7 linked regions of the Homo sapiens genome follow. The protein of the gene in region 3 purifies or fractionates together with the protein of the main gene of each other region. This does not show direct contact. Each region holds a gene or a part of one and is shown on either strand. Other genes may lie near its edges.

Region 1 (4,027 bases), on a different chromosome or scaffold from region 3:
GAACTAAATATAAAGTCTCAGAAAAAGAGGAAAAAAAAATGGGGCAGAAAAATTTTGAAGACATAGTGACCAATGAACTTTCCAAAACCGATGAAAGACCCAAAACACAGATCCAAATTGGCAAATCTAAGGATAAAACACATAAACACAGACAGACAAGCCTATCATCGTCAAACTGCTGACCAAATAAAAGGAATTGAATCTTAAAGGTAGTCAAAGGGGGAAAACAGACACATTACATTCAGGAGAACAAAGACTCAAATGACAGCAGATTTCTCACCAGAAACAACAGAGGACGGTGGCAATGGAACAATATCATAAAATAACTGAAAGAAAGGTGTAAAACCAACGACCTAGGTTCCACTTTAAGAGGAAAAGGACAGCAAATTAAACCCAAAGTGTTTTAAAAGGGAATCATAAAAATAAAACACTGAAATAGAAAATAGAAAAAAAAGTTAACATTGTTCTTTAATAAGCTGAATAAAACTGAAAAACTAATAGCAAAATTGATTAAGAAAATAAAAGAGCAACCAAAGGTATAATTAAAAAGGGGAAAGGAAGCATCACAATAAATCCTAGTTATTAAACGAATAGTAAGGTTACAATGCAATGTCAATAAATTTGGCAACTTCAGAAAAATCTTTGAATATCATAAATTGTCAAGAGTGACACAAGAAGAAACAGAAATACCTACACAGCCCTATACCTATTAAAGACATTGATTTTATAACCAAAAAATCCTCACAACAAAAATTTCAGTCCCAGATGGCTTCACTGGTGAAGGATCCCAAAAATTTTAAGGAAAAAAAAATAGAACCCTAAATAAATTTTTTCAGAAAAACGGAGGATAGAATACTTCCACTTGTTTTAATATTATCAAATCTACCATAATATAACATGACCAAGCCTGGTTTACCTCAGGAATACAAGATTGGCTTAATATTTGAAAAGCAATCCATGTAATACACCATATTAACAAAAAAACGGGAAAATCTGTATGATCGTCTCAACAGATGGAGAAAAAGAACTGGCCAGGCACAATGGCTCATGCCAGTAATCCTAGCACTGGGAGGCTGAGGCAGGCAGATCACCTGAGGTCAGGAGTTCAGGACCAGCCTGGCCAACATGGTGAAACCCCACCTCTACTAAAAATACGAAAAATTAGCCAAGGGTGGTGGCGCACGCCTGTAGTCCCACCTACTCAGGAGGCTGAGGCCTGAGAATCGTTTGAACCTGGGAGGTGGAGGTTGCAGTGAGTCGAGATTGCACCACTGCACTCCAGCCTGGGTGAGAGAATAAGACTCTGTCTCAAAAAAAAGAAAAAGAAATAAGAAGTTAGCCAAGTTAACAATAACCTTTTATGACAAAAATATTAAGCAAATTAAGAAAAAAATTCTCAATCTGGTAAAAGGCAGTTACTAAAAACCTAGAGCCAATATCAGTAATACTGAAACATTTAATCTCTTTCCCTTTAGACTGGAAACAAGACATGGACGTCCACTCTTACTACTTCAACATTGTACTATTGCTTCTAGCCAGCATGATAAGAAATGAAGGTATATTGGGAGGTTGAGGCAGGCGGATCATGAGGTCAGGAGATCGAGACCATCCTGGCTAACACGATGAAACCCTGTCGTCTCTACTAAAAATGAAAAAAAAAAGTTAGCCGGGTGTGGTGGCACGTGCCTGTAGTCTCAGTTACTCGGAAGACTGAGGCAGGAGAATCGCGTGAACCCGGGAGGTGGAGGCTGCAGTGAGCTGAGATCACGCCACTGCAATCCAGCCTGGGCAACAAACCAGACTCCATCTCAAAAAAAAAAAAAAAAAAAAAAAGAAATGAAGGTATAAAAATCAGAAAATTGTCATTACTCATAGATGATGAGATTGGTAGAAGAAAATTCCACAGAATCTATAAAATAGCTACTAGAATAAGTACACTTGGTAAAATTTCAGAATTCAACGTCAATATACAAATATATTTCTATATACTAACAATAAAAATCAGAAAATCAAAATTTTAAAAGCATTTGTAAAACATGTCGCAGAAAAAAATAACAAAAGAAATGCTTCTACATAGGTAAAATATCTCAAGAAGAATCACTAAGTAACAGATCTTGAACTTACTCCATTATTTAATACACACATAAAAGATACTAATAAAACCCTAAGTTAAAAATAAACTTTTACCTATTTCAAAGTTACTGCATGTAAATTGAAAAGACTTTTTCCACAGAAATAAAGTAGTAGGAGAGTAATGAGTAAGTCTAGTAGGAACAGCTTACCATTCATTCATTTCTCTCATTCATTCTTTTCTCTGGCACAAAGGAAGCAAGAAGAGGGAAAAAAATCTTACAAGCTATTTAGCTCAAGCTTCAGTTAGTCATTCTCAAGCTTAGGTTATGTACATAACTAACATGGGAATATTTTACATTTTGCTCATAATACAGTCCCTATCTCTCAGTTTAAGCATGTAAAATAATTTTGAGAAGCACTGTCAGCCAAAGATAAGGAAGTGCTAAAACATACAGAAAAAAAGTGCTAAATGCATTTTAACCACTCAGCATTCAGATGGAAAGGCCAAATAAGATTGCAGCAGCAAAATGTGATTATGAAAGTCAATTTATCACAAGTTAAGGGGATAAAGAAATAAAGAAAAATGTTTTAACCAATAATTATAGACTATTAACTCTTCTACCAGCTATAAAATTCATCAGGTTAGAATTACTATAATTCTTTTATGTGCAGCTCTATGGAGACAGCAATCTTGCACATAGCAACATTCAATAATACTTTAACAAGTAAATATTAATATACTTCAATGACCTTTCCCTCTCAAAGAAAAAAAAAATCTGAACTTAAGCTTTACCTAAACTGAAGATGCTAGGAGTAAAAATGGAAAGAAGTAGACCCAAAGACTACTTAATCTTCAAATAGCTCACATATCTGCTGTTCTGAAGTTGGGTAGATTCTATAGTTTTACCCAAATTATTGCCTCTTCCCTTGGTTTTAGGTACACAAACTTGAAATTTCAACTAACGCATTTAATAATCAGGTATATACTACACACAAAGCATTGTGCTAGATAATGTATATAATGAACAGGAACATAGTTAAATCTTAAGAGCTGGAGTCTGCTTTCAAGGGCCTGAGACTCTAATAATAAAGCTAAAATAACACGACTAAATAATTTAATGTACAAGTGATGAGTGTCATGACAACTGAAACCAGTGCTGAGAGAGAGGAGTCATGGTGGGAGGAGTCACTTCACCCAGCTGGATAGATCATAGGCAGCTTTCTGGAAGAACTGGAATCACACTTGATCTTTGACTTCAACACAAAGAAAGGATATAAAGACAGTACACCATAATACAACAAGGCTCTGGAATCAAAATGTCTTCTTTTGGATCCTGTCTCCATCACTTACTAGCTATGAATAAAGTATGCTAATTCATCTTCCTAACACCTATCTTGCACACAATGAATGTATAACAATTAACATATATTAATAGTAAGCACTCAATAAATGGTGCCCACTACTAATCTTCAGAAAAAAGAAACAGTAAAGTTTCAGAAAAAAGAAACAATAAAAAAAAATGACAGTGAATCACGAAAGTTCAGCTTTGCTGAAATTAAGACTCATATAAAAAGTAGAAAGATATAAATGGAAAAGATAATTTAAAGCAAATCATTAGCTTTCTTAAAGGCAAGCTAAAAAGTATGCAATTTATTATCTGGGAATGCTGAAGGTTTTGATCAAGCAATGGGATACAAACAAGGCTGGGCATCCATGTCAGAAGAACTGGAAGGGAGAAAGGCCTAGAGATAAAAACAGATTTGTTAGGAAGCAAACTGCAATCATTTAGATACGGAGTGTGAGCCCCCTACTAAGCAATGTCAGTAAGGATTATTAAGAGAGAACCTCATGACTAAGTGAATGGGAGGAAGGAGAAGCCAAAAAATTTCAAGCCAGCATAATTTGGAGAAATGAAATTAAAATAAGTGAATCCAGAAAACACTTCTTTTCAGA
Region 2 (4,027 bases), on a different chromosome or scaffold from region 3:
CAGGGTAACTAGAAATATGTGACTATTTAAATTAATCTTAATTAAGATTAAATAACATTTAAAATTTAGTTCTCCAGTCTCATTAGCCACATTTAAAGAGCTCAGTAGCCACAAGTAGCCACAACCCACAGCTCAGATATACATTCCTTTCATTACAGAAGTTCTATTGGTATTGCTCCATACCCATTCACAGGAAATACAGGAGGGCCTGGGAAACTCCAGAGGGATGCAAAGCAATCCACAAAATCCAGAATACAAGAAACTCTACAGACCAAAGACTTGGTTTATTAAATAAAATGTAACCAAAGAAAGAAATGGGAAGGAAAGACTGTTGACTAAAAATGTTAAAAGATAGACTGAAAAACAGTAATGAAGACCAAGTAAAAGTAAACTATGATGCTTATGGAAGCATGGAGGAGGAAACCAGGAAGAAAAGGAAAGCATCACCTTAAGAGGCTGGACTACACCTCCTTCTACAGGGAGGAAGGGGACTGTGGCTGGTGTCACAATTGAGCAGCAAAGCTTGATTTCCCAGCCTGAGTGCTGAGTACAGGGATATTCACCTTCTGGCAACCCATTAGGCTGAACAATTGTTTTTACGTGGTTTTATATATCTGTATTAAATTTCACCATAAAAAAATGGTTAAATAAAATCTCATAAAGTACATTAAGTGTTATCTGGCGAATTACAATAGACAGTATGATAGCAATTGGGCCTCTGTGAGAAGTGACATCTAAGCCAAACTGAATTGACAAAAAGAAAGCAGCCTTTGGAAAATCAGAACATTCCAGAAGAGAATAGAGAGAAAGGGGCTGGCGCGATGGCTCACTCCTGTAATCCCAGCACTCTGGGAAGTTCCAAGGCAGGAAGATCATTCGAACCCAGAGTTCGAAACTAGCTCAACATGGTGAAACATTATCTCTACAAAAAATGCAAAAATTAGCCAGGCCTGGTGGCTCGTGCCTATAGTCCCAGCTACTCTGGAGGCTGAGGTGGGAGGATCCCTTGAGCCCAGGAGGTCGTGGCTGCATTGAGCCATACACTTGTGCCACTACACTCCAGCCTGGGCTGCAGAGAAAGACCATATCTTAAAGAGAGAGAGAGAGAAAGAGAAGAGGTCTAAGAGGAGGGTAAGCTGTGGTGAGTTTGAGTACTGAATGAATTCCAGTGTGACTACAAAATGGTAAGCTGCAGGAAGAACATATACAGGTATCACAGATTTCTCTATGCTTACAAATAGCAGAAACTATAAATGTTAACTCAGGGATGCTACATATATCCTAGTGATAAGACACAAAATACATCTGATGTATAAAAACTTATGTGTGATGTTTCAAAATAAAGATGCACACTACTGTCCACACTGAAAGCTGAACCTGTCCTCTGTGGGCCATGTACATGGTCTAACTAAACTCAGAACATGTTACTGCTTAGGATGCATGAAGCGCCCACTACAATATCTGGGAGAATGACCTGTAATCCTGTAAAAATAAGAAGCCAACAACAGGTAAGCAATATTGACATCAGATAATCTTATTCTAGAACAATTCGCTAATTCTCTAATAAATCAAATGTACTACCCAGACTTACCTCCTCTAAATCCCAGTCATGGGGGGCCTCCACAAGAAATCTGGAGCAGTCCAAAGAGTCAGCCTTGTGCTTACACTCTCTGTCAGGCTGGTTGACACGAAACAACCCTCCAAGCTCTTCTAGAGTATCATCATCTTCTTCTTCATTATCTTCTGTCACTAAAGAGCACACCATGGCAGAAAAGTGAGAACAAAAATTACAGCCCTAGAGGACTCATCATTTTCAACCAGTTAGGCCATGAGTCTTTGAACTCAGGAACTGAGGGACTCTGTCTGTGGTGGGTATGGCAATGGCCACATAAGAGTTAGGCATTGAGAGGGCAGGGCAGCCACAGATGAAGAGAGCCAGGAAGCTATTGCTCTACATGTGTGGGGCTCCTGTGCTCCTGCACGGGAGCAGCTAAGAGGCCGAGGAGTGAGAATATTAGCGGTGAAGGGAGGGAAGGGAATTTAAAGGCAGAGCTTTAGATTATTAAAGAAGAGCTCTAAAGAGTGTTGAGCCTCTCATCACTAAGAGTACCTAGACAAAACCTGAATGAAAATCAGTATACAACAACCTTCCCAATTCAGTGGGCTGAGCCCAAATGTCTCACCATGTGGCCTTGATCTCACCATGCAGTAACCAGGGAGCACAATGTAAAGTTCACCACTATATATTTATTTTTGCATTAATTCTACCAGAAAGAACATATTGGTAAGTTTAGTAAAGCATAAAATCAGAGGACAAGGGCAAAAGGGAGAACAAAATGTGTTATACAGGGTTCTCATTCTCAGAAAGGAAAAAAATAAATATTTTTATGGGCAGGAATATTTTTCTGGCACTAATCTACAAAAAAATTCTCATGAAGGACTTTTAAATAGGGGACATAACATGATGCAATGGACGGTATTTGCATCAAGTTTTACAGCAAACCCATAAGTCTACTTTATAAGACCAATGTGTGGTCCTCATAAGCTGATGATTAGAGACATCTGTCAAATATGAAATGTGATGGACAGCAATTATGGATGTCAACAATACCAGCCGAATCCTCCAACCAATTCCCTCATCTAAATAATCAGAGAAACTAAAACATTTCTAGTTCTGAACCAGAATTCTTTACCTGTCCCATAAATAAGCTTTCGGAGGTTTGGAGCTGCTTGCTGCTGCCTCAGAAAGGCCTCAGCTGCCTTTCTGGAAAGGTCTTCCTTCCACTTGAGGGCACCTGAAACGACCAATGCCAACCTCCAGTTAGGCTTATTCATGTGTCTCCCCTCCCTTGAGATCCATCCACAATGCAGCTTTTCAACAGTTAACAAAATCACAGAATCAACAGACCCCTAAATGTAGACATTCCTTTGGTTACCATTTCGAGAGCCAAGTTCATAGCAGCAACCAACTACATTTAAGCTTACCTGACGTTTCTTTGGAATCATTATTTTCTTCCTTGTAATCTTCTTCCTCTTTGAGTAAATTTTCTATATCACTGGTCTCATCAATGAAGTTCTGTGGCCCCAGTTTCTGACCACTGCTCACTTGAGAAGGCTTTGAAAGCTTTTTTCTAATAGCCTCTTCATTTTCTGAGTCTTCTTCCTCTGCACTGAGTGAGGAGCTTTCTTCAGATTCATCTTCAGATGCAAACACCTCTTCAGCTGTGCAATGCCCAGAATCGAAAGTGGGGAGAGCTGCTTTCTTCATCAGCAAAGACTTCTCCAGATTCACACGGTCACTCTGGCAATTAGCTGGTGACAGCCCTGCTTTACTACCTTCTCCAGCAGCCTTTGATCCTGAAATGCCCTTCTCTCCTGCAGTGCAGTCCTCTTCTTCACTGCTTTCATCAGCTTCCTCCGCTTCCCCTTCTTCCGCTGAGCTCCTCTCAAGGTCATCGTCACTGTCAGCAAATGCTGGCAAATCCATTTCACTGTCTTCTTCCAACTCAAGTTTCCGTCGTTTGATGCCCTTAACAGCCATATACTGATCAGTCATCTCAGCATTTTCCTCCTCTTCTGCTTCCTCATCACTAGAGCCGTTTTCCAACCCGTCATCTTCAGACATTTCATCATCTTCTTCATCATCACTATCTCCAGATTCATCTTCATCTCCGAAAATGGCTTTCCGACGCATTCGACCAGTGTTCAAGTCCATTTGTTTTTCCTCCTTTGGCATCATTAGCCTGTATTACCAAGGAAATACAAAATAATTCAATTTGTACATTAATCAGCTAATCTAGAAATGGCAATATAGTCAATGAAAATACAAAGAAATAGAAAATGTCAAGGAATTGTTTAAGATGACATAGCATAGGGAAAATATGATTTGATAAACATTGGAAGAGTTAAGAAGCAAACTCGGGCATGGTTCCCTAACACCACACTTCAAAAGAACTTATAGAGAGAATAAAGGAATAACCCTTAAAAAACAAAAATCTAATTTTAGAAAAAAATTGCTCAAAAGAGA
Region 3 (4,799 bases):
CAGATCCCAATTCCAAATGTAAAACTACCTTCTCACCCACAAACTTTCCTTTGCATTCTAAAAAAAAAAAAAAAAAAAATTTAAGGAAAAAAAAACCTCAGAATCATCATAACCCAAAGAGATCCAGTTTACTATATAAAATATCTCCAATAAATAGTGTAGCTTCTTCCTCCCAAACTGACTTTTCAGGGCATAGATCCAACAGGTGTGAGGTTTCTTCTAACTGATTTCTATAATTTCTCATTTAGGAAAAATGGCATTCTTTTTCAAAAGGAACTGGTGATCAATCACACAATAGTCATCAGTAGTCATAAATGACTAAGCAGGACCCAAAACACTGATCAGGATCAGTATTTTATTGACAGTAAAAAAAATAAAGGGAAAGCAAGCAAGAACCTAACATTATATGATTTTTGTGAAATTCAAAGTATAAGGTTTCTGTGAGCTCACTGTCATGTATTTCAGGCAATGGCCACAACCTAGAAAGTCAATAAAAGCTAAACTAAAATCCAGAATAGAGATCTTGAAACACTCAAGGCACTGACCACACTGAACCAAAAATAAAATTATAAAGAGACTTCAGTACATTGATAACTCAAAAATTCAAATTATAAACACCAAAAAATAAGTAAATTGAATAAAACTTTTATTATTTATTAGCAGTGTATTCTTCTACACTTTAAAATAGAGCAAAATATCTTTTGGAAGATAAACTATTCATAACAAAATACATGTCAAACAATTTTTATTATCAGAGTAAAATTACTTTGCTATATACTTTCTATATTATATACATCCACTTCTTGGTGTGTCTATGTAGGCACATGTGTAAAGTAATTTTTAGACATATACATGTACATACATATGACACATATACACACATAATTATGGGAAATTTACAGTAGTCAACTTTACAATCATTTTAATAGCTTCACACAAATTAGTGTTCACAGAACTAAAACTGTCAACATGATTCCCTTTCCCCTACTTCTCAAATGTCATCTGAATTACTTTTTATGATAACTTGAAAAAAATACTGTCATCTTCCTATACAATTAACCAATTTTTATAATAACTCATAATAAAATATTTTACTTTTTTAACTTTAGAAAAGATACATAATTCCACTTATTTTAGTTTTTGATTCCTAAATCATACAATTCGTTTTTTTCATCAGTTGAGTGTAATTTTTGGTACTGCAGTTACTGAAGGTTAATTTAACAAACCTGAGTCAAACATTCATTCAAATGCCTTTTTTAAAAACATAAAACATGAACAAGATGTTTTGATGAAGCATATATAATAGACTCAAGGTACCCTCCCCTAATAAATACATTATAAATAACTCAATGGTTGGGAGTAAAGCACTTCATATGAATCCATTTAACTAGCACTTTCAGTGTCGAAGCAGTCCATTCTTAAGCAGCCTGGAAGGATATCAGGATGTAACGCTCCTCGATTCCTCATAGAAATGAAACCTACAGGCTTCTGAAGACCTAAATATCAGATCATACTTACATGAAAGGGCTGTGAGTACCTATAAGGGTCCTTTCATTTTCATAGTAGGTTCCAGATATGCTAGCGTGTGCAGCAGGGGGTTGTACCCTGTTTTAAAAATATCTCCTTTAATACAGAGAACTACTTAGCAGCATCTTTTTCAGTTTTTTCTCTCCATTGATTTAAAACTGATGTCAAACCATGTGTGATTACAGGCAACAACAACCTCATACCCAAAGCAGGATATCCTAATTGGGTTAAGAACTCTTTTGAAAGGAGGAAGGAAAAAAAAACATTTGGAATATTGAGTCATTTCATAGAGAAAAACCATGAAACCATGCTCTCAGAAGAAATATTCAGTGAATTCTGATCTTTCACTGCATGCTGTATTTTAAAGCCCCCCAGGATGCAAAACTAACTCAAATTGGCTCAGCAACAAAAACAATAGGAAAGGGAATTGTCCTAAATAAGCCATCCCATGCCATTATACTCTTGGTAGAGATAAACTTGGATAAACTCAGTGTAACTAAACTGACTTCCCAAAAGAATGAACTGACCTGCCATATTTATAGTGCGAGCATAAAAATCACTTTCTAAAAACTTTCTCCCTTACTTCTTCTTAATAAGAAGGAATTATTTATTCATTAGAGACAAAACCATACTAAAACTAAACAGATTTAAAATACAAATTTTTGGTAGCAAACAGCAGGAAAATCTAAATCAAAATATAGTGTAGTTTTTACATAATTTTATATATTTATAAATTTATCAAAATAGTCTTTTAAAGTTCACAATACATATATAATGTAACACTGTACATGTAAATATAATAATAAATGTATTACCAAAATACATTAAAAATAACCCTTCAAAATACCAAATTCAACATTAAAACTGTCTTTAAAAGTATGGAAATCTCCATAAACATAGTTTCAGTGCATTTATAGTAGTCATTAACCAGTTTTCTGTTTTCAAGTCTCTTGAAGGTGTTATCTTAGTGCTCTTTTTAATTTAAGGTAAGAAGGCAGAGATATTCTTCCAGCAAGAAGTTGCTTTCCCTCTCCACTGCTCGTCCAGATGAAGAAATTGTGTCTAAGAGAAGAACAGCTTTCACTGGAGTGGCAAGGCCTTAGTAATGAACATATTCAGACTGAAGGGACTGTGCAGGGAGAGACATAAACTGAGGTTAAATTCCATCACATGTAAAACTTCTAGCAAGTCATGCAGCTTCTCCCTTCCACACAAGACAGCTTAGAGATCAATGAAATAAACTAAGCCAAAACAGAAACAAAAAGACAGGAGACACAAAGCATTAGCTAGGTAAGAATGAGATATTCAATTACGCAAAGTGATTGTAAGAAAACTTTATATTTTAAAAGGTTTACTAATTTATTTATAGTGATTAAAAAATTAAGTTTTAATTTAAAAATCGGTAGGTAGCCTAAACTCATCTCTAAGCATTTCTACAATTAATGAGTTTTACTTAACAATATTAAAAGATACTTTTAACTAATTAAAGATTACTAGAATATACTTTGAGATGATATATCCTTAAATTTAATTCAGTACATATCAATGGCATGCTTCTAATGCAGTAGAATTAGCAGCCATTTAAATAAATTCCTTAAGCATGCTTGAATTTATAAATATCTTACACATCCTTTCCCTTAAGGGGAAATGAAGTACTACCAGCTTGAAATCTGATCTTAAGACCCAAAAACATTTATGCAGAAGAGTCTTGCTGTCGGAATTTAATAAACAATAGGCAATTTTCAAGTAAACCATACAAATTCTTCCACATCACATTAGATACTAACATATAAAAGGATTGTGATTGGGATATGTAATCAGAATGCCTGGGACAACAGACATAAACCAGGAAAAGATAGAGAGTTACAGAAAGTTTGCCAAACAGTTATTTTTTTTAGCAGGAAACAGTGATTAGAAAAAGGAACATAAATCAATCTAAACATTAACAAATTTTTTGCTCAATTCTTCCAATTAAATACCTGAGGATAACAAAGTTTACTTGATTTTCTAGTAAATGCCCTTTTCTCCCACCCAATAATTATTTCTCAAATTAGTCTGTAACATTTCATTAACAGGTCTAGTCAATTATAAGACAGGTCCATTTTGGTGATGATATAGGTTATCAGTAAAAAAGAATCTGTCCATTTTCCAAAGAACTTACAAAAGGATTCAAGCTATCTTTTCTCAGCTTCAAAACTGCAGTGAATTTTACACCCCATGAACAGCCAAATGGCTGTTCCTGAGTAAGTCCCTGTTAACACAGTATGTCAAAGAGTTATGGTCCCTGACCGCAAAGGGCGAAAGCCACAATGTCATAACAGATGTGAAATGAAAAGACAGCGGTGTCGACATTAAATAGTAATATACATAGTGTAAAGTTAACATCGTGCACCAGGAAAGGCTTAGGTGAGAGGTAGTAAGGGAAATGGGTGGTTCTCAAGGCTGCCAGTTTCAAGAGCTGTAGGAAGAATGGAAAAGGTTTGGCTATTGACTTTCTTGTATGTGGTTCATGCTAATACTTCAAAATAGGTGTGAGATGATCAAGAATCAGAGCACTATACTATAAATATACCTGAACCCACAGTGCGAATAAAAGAGGTAAGACCCTAAGAAAGTCCAGTGAAGTTGGTCAAAAGCCTTGAAGCCCATATACATTCCACTTGAGGGACGCCAGCTACCACACTCGCAATTAGAGCATAAACATTTTTCTACCTGCTTTTTCTCGGTTTCTTCTAAGTCTGGCAAGCAGTCAGAGGGCAGAGCCAGTTAAGTCCCCCAGCTATAAGAATGCCACAAAGGTATGTTGTGCGTGTATGTGTGTGTGTGTAGCTCAGCTAGTGCTTTCTTGAGAATATTTAACTTTTACTTTTGTTCCGATTAGTAAAGTTGTGCATGTTATCACTAACAGAAATCAGAAATTCTTCAAACTGCATATAACTTAGAACAAAGTTGTTTTTGCAAGCTCCATCAATTATCAATAAACAGAGATGTAGCAAATAAACATTAGACAAGCGACCTTTGTTAAACCAACTTTTTTATAGGGTAAAGTATTTCATATGTACATCAATATAGAGGGGCAAATATGTGTGTGTGCATATATTTATATATATAAACACACACATATATATATTCATTTATTTACATATTTATTTAGTGAATCACAGTACCCAGTGAACTGGAAAACAGAAATAGTCTAGAACATTTTAAAGATTTCTATTATTCATATGGAGAATATATTCATTAGTCTTCTATCCAAAGCCTTTACTTCCACA
Region 4 (4,027 bases), about 64 Mb from region 3:
GAGGAAATGAAGGAAATGGCCACCTGGCCCTACCTGGGAGGGCCTCAGGCTAGAGGGAACACATAGCCCCAAGGTCAGGACCCTCAGTGCCTGAGATGTGGCCTTGCCTGGGAGCCCCAGGTAGGGGGAGTCCACCCAATCCTCAGAGAATCAACTCATGCACTCAGGAAATGACTCAGGAACAGTGAAAAGCTCCCCAAGAACAAGTTGAAAGGGATCTTGGTCCTTAATCATAGCAAGGATTTGGTAACCTTGGTTACCTGCAATGAGTCAGGAAAAGACTCCAAGGGAAGGGAGTGGGGGAGGCATTGTCACAGGAGGAAGAAGGGCCTCTATCCCAAATTCGATGAATGTTCTGAGTCCACATCTCTCTCTTCTCCCCACCTTCCCCCAGGAGCGCTATGAAGCAGCCATCCAACGGTCAGTGAAGAAGACGTGGGCCGAAATCCGGCAGCAGCGCTGGTCCTGGGCAGGGGCCCTGCACCACAGCTCTCCAGGACATAAGACCAGTGAGTAGGCTGGAGGGGCTGGGGAGTGGGTGGGCAAGGCTGGGATGGCAAGTAAGGGAAGGGAACAACTTCCCTACAAAAAGCTGGTGGCTCCCTGCAGCAGGTGTGCCTTGCTTTATGTGACTTGTGTCTTCTAGAATGGTCTGTAAGCCAAACTGTCCCTTCCCAAGGACTTCCACTATCAAATCAGAGATGGATTCTCTCCATTTGGTTTGCTCTTCAAACCTCTGTCATTTTAGGATTAGCCTTCTTTGCGCCTGTCAATTATTATTAGTTGTTGATACATAAAAGACTTTAATGACCTACAGACACTGGATCTTAAAGAAACTGTCACTCCTTGTCTCGGAAGGTAGATTTTTGTCTCTGAGTTTTCTCCGCGTAGGGCCACCATGGATTTTGGTCTGATTCTTTGCTGGCATGTATGTACCACTGTGCTTGGATGTCTTTATGCAATGGCAAGTTTCAGTATTTCTAGCTGTGTATCTTCTGTTTATGTGCTCCTGGACCCGTGCATTGTGTGTCTTAATATGTGTTTGCCTTGGCGTGTTTGTGACCTTGTGTACCTCAGTGAGGGCTCCTAAGTCAGACAGACTTGGGTTCCAGCTCTGGCACTTGCAGCGTAACCTTTAACTTCTCGAAGTCTCACTTTCTTCATCTATAAACTGGGGATAGTGATACTACTTGCCCCTGAGGTGGTAGATAGATGTTTGAAGGATCAAATGAGGTCACATGTGTGTGGTGCCCCACACAGTACCTGGCACATGGTAAGCATCAACAAATGTGAGCTGCTACAAATGTCATGATGAGGTTGCTTCGATCTGTTTGTGGCTTGTGTGCATCTGGGTCTGACACACTATCTGTTAGTGTTTGTGTCTCTGTCCCTGTGCATGTCTGCACACATGTGTGCATGCCGAAGTATCTGCCACTCTATATGCCTGTGTCTGCATGTCTTTTTGTGATTCTGGATGAACACGTGGATTTGTGCAAGTGACTGTGACTGTGTAGGTCCTGTTTAGGAGGGTTTTTGCATTTATCCCAGTACGGGGGTGTTGTATCCAAACGTCTTGGCTGGGCAGTGTCAGCAAGTGCTAATGCTGGGTGGTTATGGGGAGGGGTTGCAGTACTCAGCCGTAAGGAATGGCTTCCTTGGTCTGGCCAGGAAAGCTGTAGTTTCTCTAGTTTTACTCATCTCCTCCCTTTGTTCCTTCTCCGTCGGCTCCCCCAACCCAGGTTGTCTCTGGTCACCTACCCCCCCACCCTCCCTCTCCCAGGGCCAAGGCTGCCTCCTGCTCCTCATCCTAGCCTGCCCACTCCTCCCTCTCCCACCCCGCCCTCGGAGCATCCTGCATGGAAGGCCTCGGTGCCCCCCACTGGCTCCTGCCGGGCCCGGCCCTAATGCCGTGTCTTTTCCCCCTCCAGGTGGGAGCAGGTGCTCCGTGTCGGCAGTTAACCTGCCCAAACACGTGGACTCTATAATCAACAAGCGGCTCTCAAAGTCCTCTGCCACGCTCTGGAACTCCCCCAGTAGAAGTAAGAGAAGGCCCAGCCCTTCCCCCTCCAGAGCCCCTTGTAGCTCCCACCAAGCCTCCTCCAGAGCTCAGCAAGAACACCAGGTCCCTGGAGCCCTCACATACTCCAGGTCCCCATCCCCACTCTACCTTACCCAGGGCTCTGTGCCCCTCGGGGGAGCCGGCATATGGGTCTGGACCCTGAGGACAGAGGTTGCCCTGTAGGAGAGGAGAACAGAGACAAAGCACAATGCCGCAGAGGGCAGGAAGCCTGGCAGGAGCCTCAAGAGCAAGTTGGAGGTGGTGGCTGGGGGTGGGGACAGGCAGGCAGCCTTTTCTGCAACCACAGCCAGCTGGTCTGGGCCAACCTTAGCCAGGTGGCATTGTCCCCATGTGTCAGACTGGCCTGGGTGCTGTGGGGTGGAGGGGTCCCTCATTCTGGCTCCACCCTAGAGGGCCCATGCAATCCTGCCCTCTCTGTCTTCAGAGCCCCAGTCATGGCCTTGGCTGGTCCCAGAGTTGAGCCAACCAAGGTGGCATAGCCCCTGCATTCCCACCATGCCCTGGTGCTCATATGTGAAGGAGCCATGGTGGGAGTTATTTATAAGTTTCTCTTGCATTTGTTTGGCTGCTTTGTTGCCTAGCAACCAAATCAGCTGCTGTACCAACCCCACCTGACTGAGGCTTAAAAATAGCCCAGCAGCTGAGGGGACAGAGCAGGGTGGCCTAGGGCAGGCAGGCACCCTAGCAGCCTCTCCCTGGCACAGGACTGCTAAAAGCTGGGTCAGAGGAGCACAAGGACCCTCACTGTCCTGAATCCATGGGACAGCCTCGGCTGGGTCAGCCCTCTGACAGCAGGAGGGGCAAGACCTTACACTGGGACATGGCAGAGGGCAATTGGGTTTTCTTCCAATCCTGGATGGCTCCTTCCTATATGCGCCGTTCAGGGCCCCTTCACCTGGGGAGCGTTGTAGGCGGGGACCCTCATCCGATGCAGGATGTTGCCCTGGGAAGTGTCTGGTTGCCTGGGTCTGTAGTGGAAGTCCAGATCATAGGGAGGACAAGTGTGGCCCCGGTGTGATTGTGGGGAGAGGACTCCCGGGTGAGAAGCCTTGGCCTTGGCATGGGGATGGTGCCTGGTCTGCTCCCTTGCCTCTTCCTGCCTCCTACGGCCCCCACGGTGACCGGCTTCGCCTGGCCTTCTACCCCCAGATCGCAGCCTGCAGCTGAGCGCATGGGAGAGCAGCATCGTGGATCGTCTGATGACGCCCACTCTCTCCTTCCTTGCTCGGAGTCGCAGCGCGGTCACACTGCCCCGCAACGGCCGGGACCAGGGTAGGGGCTGCGACCCTGGGAGAGGCCCCACGTGGGGCCGGGCAGGGGCCAGCCTGGCGCGCGGGCCGCAACCCGACCGCACTCATCCCTCTGCAGCCGTGCCGGTGTGCCCGCGCTCGGCCTCCGCCAGCCCCCTGACGCCGTGCAGCGTCACCCGAAGCGTGCACCGCTGCGCCCCCGCCGGTGAGCGCGGGGAGCGCCGCAAGCCCAACGCCGGGGGCAGCCCCGCTCCGGTGCGCCGCCGGCCGGAGGCCTCGCCGGTGAGTGGCTCTACTGGCTCGAGTGGCCGCGCAGGTGGGGACAGGCAGCCTGGAACTGGGGTACGCGGGCGCTGCTGACCTCTACTCTCCTCTTCCGTTCCTCCTTCCCTGCCAGGTGCAGAAAAAGGAGAAGAAGGACAAGGAGCGGGAAAACGAGAAGGAGAAGAGTGCCCTAGCCCGGGAGCGCAGCCTCAAGAAGCGCCAGTCGCTGCCCGCCTCCCCACGTGCCCGCCTCTCTGCCAGCACCGCCTCTGAGCTCAGGTGGGCGCGGGCGGTGCGAGGGACCCTGCCCCTCACCGGGTCATTTATTCATCACCCACAAATATTTGTTGGGCAACCACCTCTAGAATGCAACTTCCCTGAGGGCAGATTCTCTCTGTTTTGTTTGAGACAGGATCTCCCTCTGTCACCCAGG
Region 5 (4,027 bases), on a different chromosome or scaffold from region 3:
TGGACTCAAGCAATCCAAGCCTCCCACAACATTCTTTATTCATACCTGTGACTCTCCAGAGCCTTCATCATCAAAGAAATACCTAACGATGGTACCATCTGCATGACCAGAGAGAATTCCTTTCCCAGAGCAACTAAAAAAGGAGAAAGGAGAGAAATACAGGAAGAGACTATTTTATCTCACCAAGAAAGCCCCTTTCTCTGTCAAACACAACCTTGTCTGTGCTTCCTGCTACCAGTTCTCCTGCCTTTCATACTATGGTCTTGCAGTCCAGACTTCCCCACAGCATTTTCCTAACACTTCCAGACTCTAGTGATACTACTCCTCTTTACTCACTTTGTTGTCAGGGACACCACGTAAGACTCTGTCCCATAGATGGTAGATGATTTATTAGTTTTGGTGTTTGCTAAACGAACCTGAAAATGGAAAAATTGATACAAGTATGGTTAGGCTATTTTATATTTAACTAGGCCCTAAGAAAAAAAGGAAAAACTGTCCCACAAAACTGGTCCCTATGCATTCTCCCCAGTACGCAACTTGATCCTAAGAAAGAGGATGAACCATATTCCTCTCTCCAGAACCATTATCCCTACCACCCCCTCTCTTGTGTTTCCCTTCCCTCTTTTACCTTCCCTTCAGCCAGTCCAAAGACAATGATGTATTCTGCCGGCCATTGCAGACAAGTGACAGCACTCTGCGTGGAAGGAAACAATGAAAAGGATAACCCCATCTGTGTGGGCCAGCACTTTTATAACAACTTCAACACCCCACCACACACCACCACCTCAATCTCCTATAGGGAAGGACACAGCAGGGCTCTAAGGAAGACAGCAGATGACCATGAACAGCCATGAAGCACCATCCTTGCAGTAGGAAAAGTCACATTCAGATGTTAGAAATGCAACTCCTGGCTGTATTTATAAGTAGATATACTGATATATGTTTGTTCATCCTAAGGTTCCAGGGACTGGTCTGAACTTTACCGTCTGGATGAACTTGTTGCAGATGACTTTCTTGTCACCCCTGCCAAACAAAAGAAGGGGAAACATATTAAAAACCACTTCCAGGCCGGGCGTGGTGGCTCATGCCTGTAATCCCAGCACTTTGGGAGGCCGAGGCGGGAGGATCATGAGGTCAGGAGATCGAGACCATCCTGGCTAACACAGTGAAACCCCGTCTCTACTAAAAATACAAAAAATTAGCCGGGTGTGGTGGTGGGCGCCTGTAGTCCCAGCTACTCGGGAGGCTGAGGCAGGAGAATTGCGTGAACCTGGGAGGAGGAGCTTGCAGTGAGCCACAATCGCGCCACTGCACTCCAGCCTGGGTGACAGAGTGAGACTCTATCTCAAAATAAATAAATAAATAAATACCACTTCCATAAACAAATTGCCAAAAATGATGCTGAGGGAAGAGAAGAAAGAGCAGATTTCTTCCCTGGCCCAGTAGTATTTCTGACTACTCTGTAGGAGCCCTGAAAGGAGGTATATGAGGGAGCCTAAGCAGCTTCAGAACAATAACAAAGATGTGACATCACTCTGGGCTTCCAGGATCTCACAGGGCCTCCTGTTGACCTTGGACTGTTTCCTCCAGGGATGGGATTGAAGAACACGTGGGACAGGTGAAGGCAGAAAAGCAAAAACAGACTCCAGAAAGTCTCTGCCTTCAATGGCCAAGCTTGGCTTCTCATCCCCTGTATTTCCCCTCCCCAGTGAGGCATTTCTCTTGCCTTCCCCTTCTTTCCTGGGCCATCCCATCTCCCAGTCTCTATCCTCACCAATCTTCTCCAATCTTGTAGACATAGATGATGTTGTCAGTCTGTCCTATGGCAATTTTAGTGGAATCAGGAGAAAAAGCCATGCCCTTCACCATATAGCTCTTCCTGCCATACTAAGAGTTTAAAAAAAAAAAAAGAAAGAAAAAGAAGTAATGAGTACACATGAAAGAGAAAAGAGAAAAAAAGGCATATGTGTGCTCCTAAGGGAGCTTGAGGATTTATACTGAGAAAAAGGTGGGGTATGCCATTTCCTATGCTGATGGCTAGAAGGCAGACTACGTCTTTCAAGTTGTGAGACCCCATCAATAGGTTAAATAAGGTACACATGAATACACTGTTTACCTTCATGTCAGCTGGTTTGGTGGAGAATTTATCTCTCCGTTCTCCATGTTCATCATACAGCAAGACCACTCGGTCCACTGTGCAGACAGCAAATTTGGCATTGTTCTGGGACCAAGCCATGCAGGTCACCTTTGCAGCTCCATCCTGTAGAGGCAAAGGGGTAAAAACAAACCCATGTGCTGGTCTAGAATGCCAAAAGCATTTCTAGCTTCATTAATTCTAGTGTAATACTGGTCAATTTTCTTCCTGTCACGGTTCTATCCTCAAAACAAAGAGATGCCTGTGGCCCATGCTGGTCTCCAAGGCCTTCAGATCCTGGACTGTGAGAACAACAGGCTTCTAGAGACTCATATGCAAATGCACTAAGAGGCAGGGTGCTAAGTCAACTGTATCAATGAATCCCTGCAACGGCCTCCTCGTTTCCAGGTCTGCTACTGAAATAAATTCAATTAGTCTGGTAAGTTTTGGTCATTAGCCATTCATTCAATTAATATTTTTTTAGCACCTTATTGATCAAGGCACTTGGCCAGGGGCTGAGAGAGAGACAAAAAGCAAACCATAGATCCTGCCTCCACGTCTAATAAGATGGTGCAAAATAGAAAAGTCCTATTAAAGTATGTATAAAGTACTACAATAGTTTGGAGAAGCCTGAGAGAATTTTATGCTTAAATTATCAAAATTAAGCTTTGAAGAATGAATGCAGTTGAGTAGGAAGTTATCTGAGATGGGAGGAATGGCAATGAGCAAAGGCAAATTCTGGACAAGAAACAGTAATTTAGTTTATTTGAAACTATTATACCTTATAAATAGTAGAATAGACGGGGTAAGGCAGGAAAAACAGGCCAGCTCAGGAAGTCTTTGAAGCCAGGCAAAGGAGTTTGGGCTTATTTGAAAGGAAAGGGAGAGACAGTGAGAGTTCAGGATGGGCGAGTACGAGTTGAGACTCAGGACGAATAATCCCACTTTCTTTTCTTCTTAACTACCCACTTCAGAGAAACCCAAGTTAGAAGTTATCTCCAGGTGAATTATTCTGACCAGATCTGACCCTTCCAACACTAGCTCTGGTCCTAAGGGACTAGCTCTGCTACTAAGGGTTTCCTTCCTTGAAAACAAAACATTTTATTCTGCTTTTCTTCTGCCCCAATTGTTTAATTATTTGGACACTAGAGTTCTGGCTTCAAACATTGACACTTTACACTCCAAACTCACCTATCTCCAAAGTCAGAAGTAAAAAGTCTATTTTCCTGCAAATCCTCAAACCAGAAAATAGCCACACCACCATCACTATGATCCTCTAACTCTTCATTATATTAGGTTAGAAGGCCTGAGGGCTCCTCATCAATCTTTGCTGATCCTCCTGCTTTATCGCTTTGCCCAATTCTGGGCATTCAGCCCTACCTGCATCATGACATCATCTTATTTTGAGAGACTGAAGGAGGATTTCATTTCCAATTTTTCCATTAGGGCGGAGAAATTTTTAAAGTACAGATTCAATGGACAGCTTGCTGAGCAATGAGCACAAATCTCTGTCTTTTTATTTTTTTCTCCAACTGAGGAGAGAGCACAACTATCTTTGTTCTAATTTCCTTCTTTTTTTTTTTTTGACGGAGTCTCACTCTGTCCCCCAGACTGGAGTGCAGTGTCACAATCTCAGTTCACTGCAACCTCTGTTTCTTGGGCTCAAGCGATTCTCCTGCCTCAGCCTCCCAAGTAGCTGAGGCTATAGGCGTGTGCTACCATGCCTGGCTAATTTTTTTATATTTTTGGTAGAGACATGGTTTCACCGTATTGCCCAGGCTGGTCTTGAACTCCTGACCTCAAGTGATCCACTCACCTTGGCCTCCTGAAGTGCTGGGATTACAGGCGTGAGCCACCACGCCCGGCCTGTGTTCTCATTTCCTCCTATTGTCC
Region 6 (4,027 bases), on a different chromosome or scaffold from region 3:
GAGTCTCGCCCTGTCACCCAGGCTGGAGTGCAGTGGCGCAATCTTGGCTCACTGCAACCTCCACCTCGGGGTTCAAACAATTCTCCTGCCTCAGCCTCCCGAGCAGCTGGGATTACAGGCACGCGCCATCATGCCCAGCTAATTTTTTATTTTTAGTAGAGACGGGATTTCACCATGTTGCCAAGCTGGTCTCCAACTCCTGACCTCAGGTAATCTGCCCACCTCAGCCTCCCAAAGTGCTGGGATTACAGGCGTGAGCCACCACGCCGAGCCAGCTTCATGTTTCTTTTTTTTTTGAGACAGAGTCTCACTCTGTCGCCCAGGCTGGAGTGCAGTGGCACAATCTCGGCTCACTGTAAGCTCTGCCTCCCAGGTTCACACCATTCTCCTGCCTCAGCCTCCCGAGTAGCTGGGACTGCAGGTGCCCGCCACCACACCCCGGATATTTTTTTTTTTTTTTTTTTTGAGACAGAGTCTCGCTCTGTCGCCCAGGCTGGAGTGCAGTGGCGCCTCTTGGCTCACTGCAAGCTCCACCTCCTGGGTTCGTGCCATTCTCCTGCCTCAGCCTCTAGAGTAGCTGGGACTACAGGCGCACACCACCACGCCTGGCTAATTTTTTGGTATTTTTAGTAGAGACGGGGTTTCACCATGTTTGCCAGGATGGTCTCGATCTCCTGACTTCGTGATCCACCCACCTCGGCCTCCGAAAGTGCTGGGATTACAGGCGTGAGCCACCACGCCCGAACTTTTTTGTATTTTTTAGTAGAGACGTGGTTTCACCGTGCTAGCCAGGATGGTTTCCATCTCCTGACCTTGTGATCTGCCCGCCTCTGCCTCCCAAAGTGTTGAGATTACAGGCGTGAGCCACCGCACCTGGCCCATATTTCTCTTAATTACTAACCAGGAGGCTGGTCCACATACTCAGGACAGTAACCAAAACTGAGTCTTTGAGCGTCTGAAGGAAAAACAAAAGAGGTGGCTGCCACAAGGACCCACCTAGGCAGCCCACTGGCCTCCCTGTCTGACACTTGGCTGTACCACTGAGCTGAGCAGCATGGACCTCCCTGATGATCCCAGATGTTGTTTTCTTTCCTTCTCTGCATGATGTCTGACCAACACTCTAGCCTAGCAAGCTTTCCCTGCATGCAGGCTGCACCTGGTAGAGCCCACAGATCAGGTGAGATGTATTCCTGCTAATGTTAACCAACGGAATCCAGACTCCAAGAGCAGCGCCAGAGCTGCTGACCACAAAGGGTTACGAAGCATGCAGAATGGCCAGCCACCAAGGAAAGAACACAGACTCCCCACTGTGGGATCACTCACACTTTCCCTATAGTGTCTCAAACACAGCACCTAGGAGCTGCAGCCCTGTACTTCACTTGCTGTGGGACCTTGAACAAATCAGAAGGCACCCCAGTGTCTCAGCGTTTATAAAACTAAGGGAATGGACTAGTTCCAGCTCTGAAAATCTTACGGCCCAAACAAAGAAATATTTCTGCATTGAAAGGCTCTATTCACGCCGGGCGCAGTGGCTTACGCCTGTAATCCCAGCACCTTGGGAGGCCGAGGCGTGCGGATCACCTGAGGTCAGGAGTTTGAGACCAGCCTGGCCAACATGGTGAAACCTCATCTCTACTAAAAATACAAAAATTAGCTGGGCGTGGCGGCAGGCGCCTGTAATCCCAGCTACTAGGGAGGCTGAGGCAGGATAATAGCTTGAACCCAGGAGACGGAGGTTGCAGTGAGCCAAGATTGCGCCATTGCACTCCAGCAGCCTGGGGGAGAAGAGCGAGATGTCGTCTCAAAACAAAAAAAACAACAGGTTCTATTCAACACGACCTCTCCCACCTGCCTGATCAGACACGCAGTGTAAGAAAACATGAAATGCCATACCATGTGGTGGAGAAAGCCGCCTGAGGCTGCAAACTTCATCTGTTTAGTAGGAACGGAAGCTATACCATCATCATCTTCATCCAGGTCATATAAATTCTGAGAATATAACATAAAGAAATATAAGCAAATGTGGCATCTGGGCCCTCAACAGACATCTAGAACAGGCATGGCAAGGAAATGGCTGCTGGAGAAACAAAGGGACCAAGGAGAAGTGGGCACAGGGGTGACGGTGCCTGGAAAGACTGGGGCCCAAGTCTTCACAGGCTAACTCCCTGTCAGCAAGGACCCAGTGAAAGTCCTACAACTTCCAGATACATCAGAAGTCCCTTTTTCCCAGTGGGCAGTATGTACCAAGAGTCCCTAAAATGTTTCTTTATATCCTTTGGCTTGGAAAGTCCATCCTTGTTAATATGACCTACAGAAATAAATCCAAACCCTAGAAAGAGCTTTATTTACAAAGATGTTCACAGCAGAAGGATTTCTAACAGTGAAAATGACAGGAAAATGGTTTAAATAAAACTGGAATGCCAACTATATAGATTTTGCAGTTACTAAAACATGTACAGTAAATATGAAATGTCACAGAGAAATGCTTGAGTTACAAAGTGAAAAAAGAATGATACAAAATTGGATAAGAATATAACCATGGCTGGGCTCAGTGGCTCAAGCCTGTCATCCCAGCACTTTGGGAGGCCGAGGAGGGCGGATCACGAGGTCAGGAGATCGAGATCATCCTGGCTAACATGGTGAAACCCCGTCTCTACGAAAAATACAAACAATGAGCCGGGCATGGTGGCATGCGCCTGTAGTCCCAGCTACTCGGGAGGCTGAGGCAGGAGAATGGTGTGAACCCGGGAGGCGGAGCTTGCAGTGAGCCGAGATCGTGCCACTGCACTCCAGTCTGAGTGACAGAGCGAGACTCGGTCTCAAAAAAAAAAAAAGAATATATAACCACAACCACAACTATGAGTTAAGTAAAAAACAGACTGGGGCTGGGCACAGTGGCTCACGCCTGTAATCCCAGCACTTTGGGAGGCCAAGGTGGGCGAATTACCTGAGGTCAGGAGTTCGAGATCAGCCTGACCAACATGGAGAAACACCGTCTCTACTAAAAATACAAAATTAGCCAGGCGCGGTGACTCATGCTTGTAATCCCAGCTACTTGGGAGGCAGAGGCAGGAGGATCGATTGAACCCAGGAGTTCGAGACCAGCCTGGGCAACATGACAAGACTCCATCTCTACAAAAATTAGCCAGATGTGGTGGTATGCACCTGTGATCCCAGCTACTCAGGAGGCTGAGGTGGGAGGATCATTTGAGCCCAGAAACTCAAGGCTGCAGTGAGCCATGACTGCACCACTGCACTCCAGCCTGGGGGACAGAGTGAAACCCTGTATCAAAAAAAAAGAAGCGTACATGTAAGGAACTATGGCAAAATTTCAACAGTGACTGGCTTTGGAGAATAGGAACTTGAGGGACTTTTTGGCAAGTTTTCTATATTAAGCACATAGAACTTTTATTTAAAAAAATTAGGCCGGGCGCGGTGGCTCACACCTGTAATCCCAGCTCTCAGGGAGGCTAAGAGGCGGGAGGATAGCTTGAGCCCAGGAGTTCGAGACCTGCCTGGGCAATATAGCGAGACCCCGTTCTCCAGAAAAAGGAAAAAAAAACAAAACAAAAGACAAAAAAAAAAAAAGCGTAAAAAAATTAAAAAAAACAAACAAAACTTTTTTTAGCCTCTCTGCCCCCTATGCCTCCCTTCCTCTATTAAGAAGTTTCTTCTTGGCTGGGTGTGGTGGCTCACGCCTGTAATCCCAGCACTTTGGGAGGCTGAGGCGGGGGGATCACAAGGTCAAGAAATTGAGACCATCCTAGCCAACATGGTGAAACCCCATCTCTACTAAAAATACAAAAATTAGCTGGGTGTGGTGGTACGCGCCTGTAGTCCCAGATACTCAGGAGGCTGAGGCAGGAGAATCACTTGAACCCGGGAGGCAGAGGTTGCAGTGAGCCGAGATTACGCCACTGCACTCCAGCCTAGCGACAGAGCGAGACTCCGTCTCAAAAAATAAAAAAATAAAAAAAATTTCTTCTTTAAACTCAAATTGCAAAAAGTTCGCTGTAACCCTGCCTCC
Region 7 (4,027 bases), about 77 Mb from region 3:
TGTGGGCCCTAGAATAAGTCATTTAAGTCTATTCTCCAATAGTATTGCCTTTTCTTTCAGCAGTGTTGTAAATATGCACTTGAAGTGTGCTGTTTTTCTTTTCTTTTTTTTTTTTTTTTTGGTAAAAAGACAAACATATAAGGCTGTAGTAGTGTAGTAGTGGTATGTACTATATGCCTCTAGGTGCTTACTTATTTCTTATGATGAAAGCATTTCTGTTAAAATGGGGAGTACCTAAGTGATCATATATTTCATTTATGTAATGGAAGTTGATGGATAGCTAATGGCCCTTCCAGTGTAAAGCGGCCATCATTAAGGTAACATTATCAGAAACAGAATCATTTTTCATGTAATACAGCTTTTAGGGACAGTGTCAACTTATGAGTAAAGCATGCTGTTACAGGTAGGACCCGGATAGTCCAGGCTGAAAGATGTGGTATAAACTTTGATGCATATAATAGATGCATAGCAAATATTTGATGAGTGAATGAATGAATGTAATGAATGTATTCCCTTTTTTTTTGGAGTGCAGTGCTGTGATGATGTCTCACTGCATCCTCTACTGCCTGGGCTCAAGTGATTTTCCCACGTCAGCCTTCTGAGAAGCTGGGACCACAGGTGTGTGCCACCATGCCTGGCTAACTTTTTTTTTTATTTATAGAGATGAGGTTTCCCTGTGTTTCCCAGGCTGGTCTCCTGGAACTCCTGGGTTCAGGGGATCCTCCCATGTCAGCCTCCCAAAGTGTTGAGATTACAGGCATGAGCCATCATGCCCTGCCCGGAATGCATTCTTTAAAAAAAAAAAAAAAGCTTTATTGAGGTATAATTTACATACAATAAAATTCACCAATTTTAAGTGTACAGTTTGACAAATTTTGACACATGTATACAGTTGTATAATTACCACCACTGTGTTTATTTTTTTAAACTGTGTGTTATCTTTTAGGAATTGGGTAGCAGATTTATCCCTGGGAATGTTATGAGGTTTCTATGCTCAGATTCAATACTGTGAGATCAGAATGAATATTAGAGTGTTAATGTGCCAACTTGGGAGGAAATAGGAAAACCTTCGGTATTTAATGGTGAGGTAAATAGGAAGAATAAGGAGAGACATTTATTGGATTAGGGGAAAGATAAATAAATTCAGGAGGAAGTAGATTTTAGTTACTTTTAAGACAGAGGATACATTTTGGGGAAAAAGTTACCAAAAGATTTAAGGAGTTGAACTTTTTATTTTTTTTCTTTTGAAATGGTAGCTCCTGAAATATAAAACTTAACATCTTTGGCTGTGCTTAAGAAGCGCTTAACAAATTATGGTTGTTCAAATAATACTTAAGGGTGGGGATGGTGTAAAGTGGTTGAAGGCCTTGCCCTTCCACCTATGACAGAATATCCTTAGTGTTGATCTCTAACTTGTTTTAAGTAATATTCCACAAAGGGAAGAATACATTAGGTAGCAATTGTGGCTTGCGGGGAAGATTGTTTCTTCCTTTTCATAATTTCTCAAGTCACTGAACTTCTCCCAGTATGCTTTAGCTCAAGTCTCTGTCTCTTAGAAAATGCCTGGAACCTGTGCTAGTGAGCTTCTAGAAGAAGCCCCATTTCTACCTTCTCTTTATTTTTTGATTTTATCTTTATTCATTCTGTTTCTGTATGGTGACTGTGTTTTTTTTTTTTGAGACGGTGTCTCACTGTGTCACCCAGGCTGAAGTGCAGTGGTGTGATCTTGGCTCACTGCAAGCTCCGCCTCCCGGGTTCACGCCATTCTGCCTCAGCCTCCCGAGTAGCTGGGACTACAGGCACCCGCCACCATGCCCGGCTAATTTTTTGTATTTTTAGTAGAGATGGCATTTCACCGCGTTAGCCAGGATGGTCTCGATCTCCTGACCTCGTGATCCGCCCGCTTCGGCCTCCCAAAGTGCTGGGATTAGAGGCGTGAGCCACCGCGCCCAGCCGGTGACTATTTTATAAGCCCTTCTCTCACCCATGGATTTGTCTGAGAATGGAAACTTTTTTTTTTTGCTCTGCCCGAAGCAAAGGAATTCTTGTTAAATCCACCATTGGTCCTCCGTATACCATTAGGAAATAATAATTAAAATAACCCTTTAGATCTACTCAAAGGGGTGACTATAATAGTGTTCCCTCCTTGAGCGGGGGACATGCTAATCTTCTCTGTATTATTCCAGTTTTAGTATTTGTGCTGCAGAAGTGACTACTCTGTTCACCTTTGAAAAAATAATAACTCTATGAGGTAGTCATTATCCTTATTTTATAAATGAGGGAACTGAGCTCAGAGCAGTTAACTGCCAGAGCAAGTGAGGGGCAGACCATTGATTCGAGCTCAGGTATGATTGATGCTCAGGTTTGGGGTCTATGTCATTACACTCTCAGTTGTATGGGAGTGGAGGGTCAAGGGAAGAGCTTGAAAATACCATATTAAAATATGAGCCACAACATGACAAGCATTGCTAACCTTTTTAGGCATTGCTGTTGTCATCTATGACTTTCTTAATTTCTGGAGATTCCTCCTTATGTTCTAAGGAATTGATAGTTAATCCTTTAGTATTGCACAACTTCCTTCCCAGACTCAGCATTTTTTTTTTTTTTTTTTTTAAGAGACGGGATCTCACTCTTTCTCTCGATCTGGAGTATAGTGGCAGTCATAGCTCACAGCAGCCTTGAACTCCTGGGCTTAGGCAGTTCTCCTTCCTCAGCCTCCGATTAGCTGGGACTACAAGTGTGCACCACCATGCCCAGCTAATTAAGAAACATTTTTTTTTTTTTTGTAGAGATAGGGTTTTGCTTTGTTGCCCAGGCTGGTCTTGAACTCCTGGGCTCAAGCGATTCTCCCACCTTGGCCTCCCAGAGTGTTGGGATTACAAGCATGAGTGGCACCTGGCCCCAACATGCTTTTTTTTTTTTTTTTTTTTTGAGAGAGTCTCACCCTGTCACCCAGGCTGGAGTGAAGTGGTGTGATCTCGGCTCATTGCAACTTCCACCTCCCGGGTTCAAACGATTCTTCTCCCTCAGCCTCCCAAGTAGCTGGGAGTACAGGTGCCTGCCACTACACCCAGCTAATTTTTGTATTTTTAGTAGAGACAGGGTTTTACCATGTTGGCCAGGCTGGTCTCGAGCTGCTGACCTCGTGATCCGCCTGCCTCGGCCTCCAAAAGTGCTGGGATTACAGGTGTGAGCCACCGCACCCAGCCTTATTCTTTATTAACATGGTACTTTGTATCACTGGCTGTTTGAATTACTCCTCTGAAAGCTTCTACCCGGGTAATCTTTCATTCAAGACCTGCCGTATTTGCATGTGCCCCTTTATACCGTTTGTTTCTTTATTTTTACAAAAAAATTTAAAAATATGGACTGCTTTATGAATTAGCATGTCATCCTTGTGCAGGGCACATACTAATCTTCCCTGTACCATTCCAATTTTAGTATTTGTGTTGTGGAAGTGAGCACTCTATTCCTGTTTTTATCTGGACAAAATAGTATTTTAAAAATGTATTATGGGCTGGGCTAACATGGTGAAACCCCGTGGCTACTAAAAATACAAAAAATTAGCCAGGCATGGTGGCAGGCACCTGTAGTCCCAGCTACTCGGGAGGCTGAGGCAGGAGAATGGCGAGAACCCAGGAGGCAGAGCTTGCAGTGAGCCGAGATCACGCCACTGCACTCCAGCCTGGGCAACAGAGCGAGACTCCGTCTCAAAAAAAAAAAAAATAAAAGTATATTACGTTATTAAAAACTTTATGATTGAAGTATATAATACATATACAGAAAAATGCATGTAAAAGTGGAATTTGATGTTTTTTTCCCACAAACTGAATATACCCATGTAAGCAGCACCTAGATCTAGATCAAGAAACAGCGTTACCAGTACCTAGAAGCCCCTATCCAGTTCCCTTTCAGTTCCTGTCTCCCCTCTACCACCCAGGGTAATCACCATCCTGACTTCTGACAGCATAGATTATTTTGCTCTTTTTTTGTACTTTTGTAAAAATTGAATCATATAGTATATATT

What was found.
Region 1: the proteins of CDC14A (region 3) and RBM26 purify together in Homo sapiens (affinity purification with mass spectrometry, with the first as the bait; one large-scale study listed by BioGRID). This does not show direct contact.
Region 2: the proteins of CDC14A (region 3) and BMS1 purify together in Homo sapiens (affinity purification with mass spectrometry, with the first as the bait; one large-scale study listed by BioGRID). This does not show direct contact.
Region 4: the proteins of CDC14A (region 3) and MAP7D1 purify together in Homo sapiens (affinity purification with mass spectrometry, with the first as the bait; one large-scale study listed by BioGRID). This does not show direct contact.
Region 5: the proteins of CDC14A (region 3) and IFT172 purify together in Homo sapiens (affinity purification with mass spectrometry, with the first as the bait; one large-scale study listed by BioGRID). This does not show direct contact.
Region 6: the proteins of CDC14A (region 3) and POLDIP3 purify together in Homo sapiens (affinity purification with mass spectrometry, with the first as the bait; one large-scale study listed by BioGRID). This does not show direct contact.
Region 7: the proteins of CDC14A (region 3) and LUZP1 purify together in Homo sapiens (affinity purification with mass spectrometry, with the first as the bait; one large-scale study listed by BioGRID). This does not show direct contact.

Annotation. Positions count from the first base shown.
Region 1 is NC_000013.11:79,395,871-79,399,897, forward strand, and holds part of RBM26 (RNA-binding protein 26), read right to left. Parts: intron 1-4,027. UniProt on the Homo sapiens protein: May be involved in the turnover of nuclear polyadenylated (pA+) RNA.
Region 2 is NC_000010.11:42,796,190-42,800,216, reverse strand, and holds part of BMS1 (ribosome biogenesis protein BMS1 homolog), read right to left. Parts: intron 3,744-4,027; coding exon 2,986-3,743; intron 2,796-2,985; coding exon 2,694-2,795; intron 1,750-2,693; coding exon 1,592-1,749; intron 1-1,591. UniProt on the Homo sapiens protein: GTPase required for the synthesis of 40S ribosomal subunits and for processing of pre-ribosomal RNA (pre-rRNA) at sites A0, A1, and A2.
Region 3 is NC_000001.11:100,516,108-100,520,906, reverse strand, and holds the end of CDC14A (dual specificity protein phosphatase CDC14A), read right to left. Parts: intron 2,657-4,799; coding exon 2,627-2,656; 3' UTR 630-2,626; downstream 1-629. UniProt on the Homo sapiens protein: Dual-specificity phosphatase. Required for centrosome separation and productive cytokinesis during cell division. Dephosphorylates SIRT2 around early anaphase.
Region 4 is NC_000001.11:36,172,970-36,176,996, forward strand, and holds part of MAP7D1 (MAP7 domain-containing protein 1), read left to right. Parts: intron 1-394; coding exon 395-509; intron 510-1,928; coding exon 1,929-2,039; intron 2,040-3,229; coding exon 3,230-3,612; intron 3,613-3,727; coding exon 3,728-3,873; intron 3,874-4,027. UniProt on the Homo sapiens protein: Microtubule-stabilizing protein involved in the control of cell motility and neurite outgrowth. Facilitate microtubule stabilization through the maintenance of acetylated stable microtubules.
Region 5 is NC_000002.12:27,483,244-27,487,270, forward strand, and holds part of IFT172 (intraflagellar transport protein 172 homolog), read right to left. Parts: intron 3,000-4,027; exon of another isoform or gene 2,916-2,999; intron 2,261-2,915; coding exon 2,117-2,260; intron 1,888-2,116; coding exon 1,775-1,887; intron 1,024-1,774; coding exon 984-1,023; intron 924-983; exon of another isoform or gene 785-923; intron 695-784; coding exon 629-694; intron 417-628; coding exon 337-416; intron 134-336; coding exon 46-133; intron 1-45. UniProt on the Homo sapiens protein: Required for the maintenance and formation of cilia. Plays an indirect role in hedgehog (Hh) signaling, cilia being required for all activity of the hedgehog pathway.
Region 6 is NC_000022.11:42,597,805-42,601,831, forward strand, and holds part of POLDIP3 (polymerase delta-interacting protein 3), read right to left. Parts: intron 1,990-4,027; coding exon 1,894-1,989; intron 1-1,893. UniProt on the Homo sapiens protein: Is involved in regulation of translation. Is preferentially associated with CBC-bound spliced mRNA-protein complexes during the pioneer round of mRNA translation. Contributes to enhanced translational efficiency of spliced over nonspliced mRNAs.
Region 7 is NC_000001.11:23,162,142-23,166,168, reverse strand, and holds part of LUZP1 (leucine zipper protein 1), read left to right. Parts: intron 1-4,027.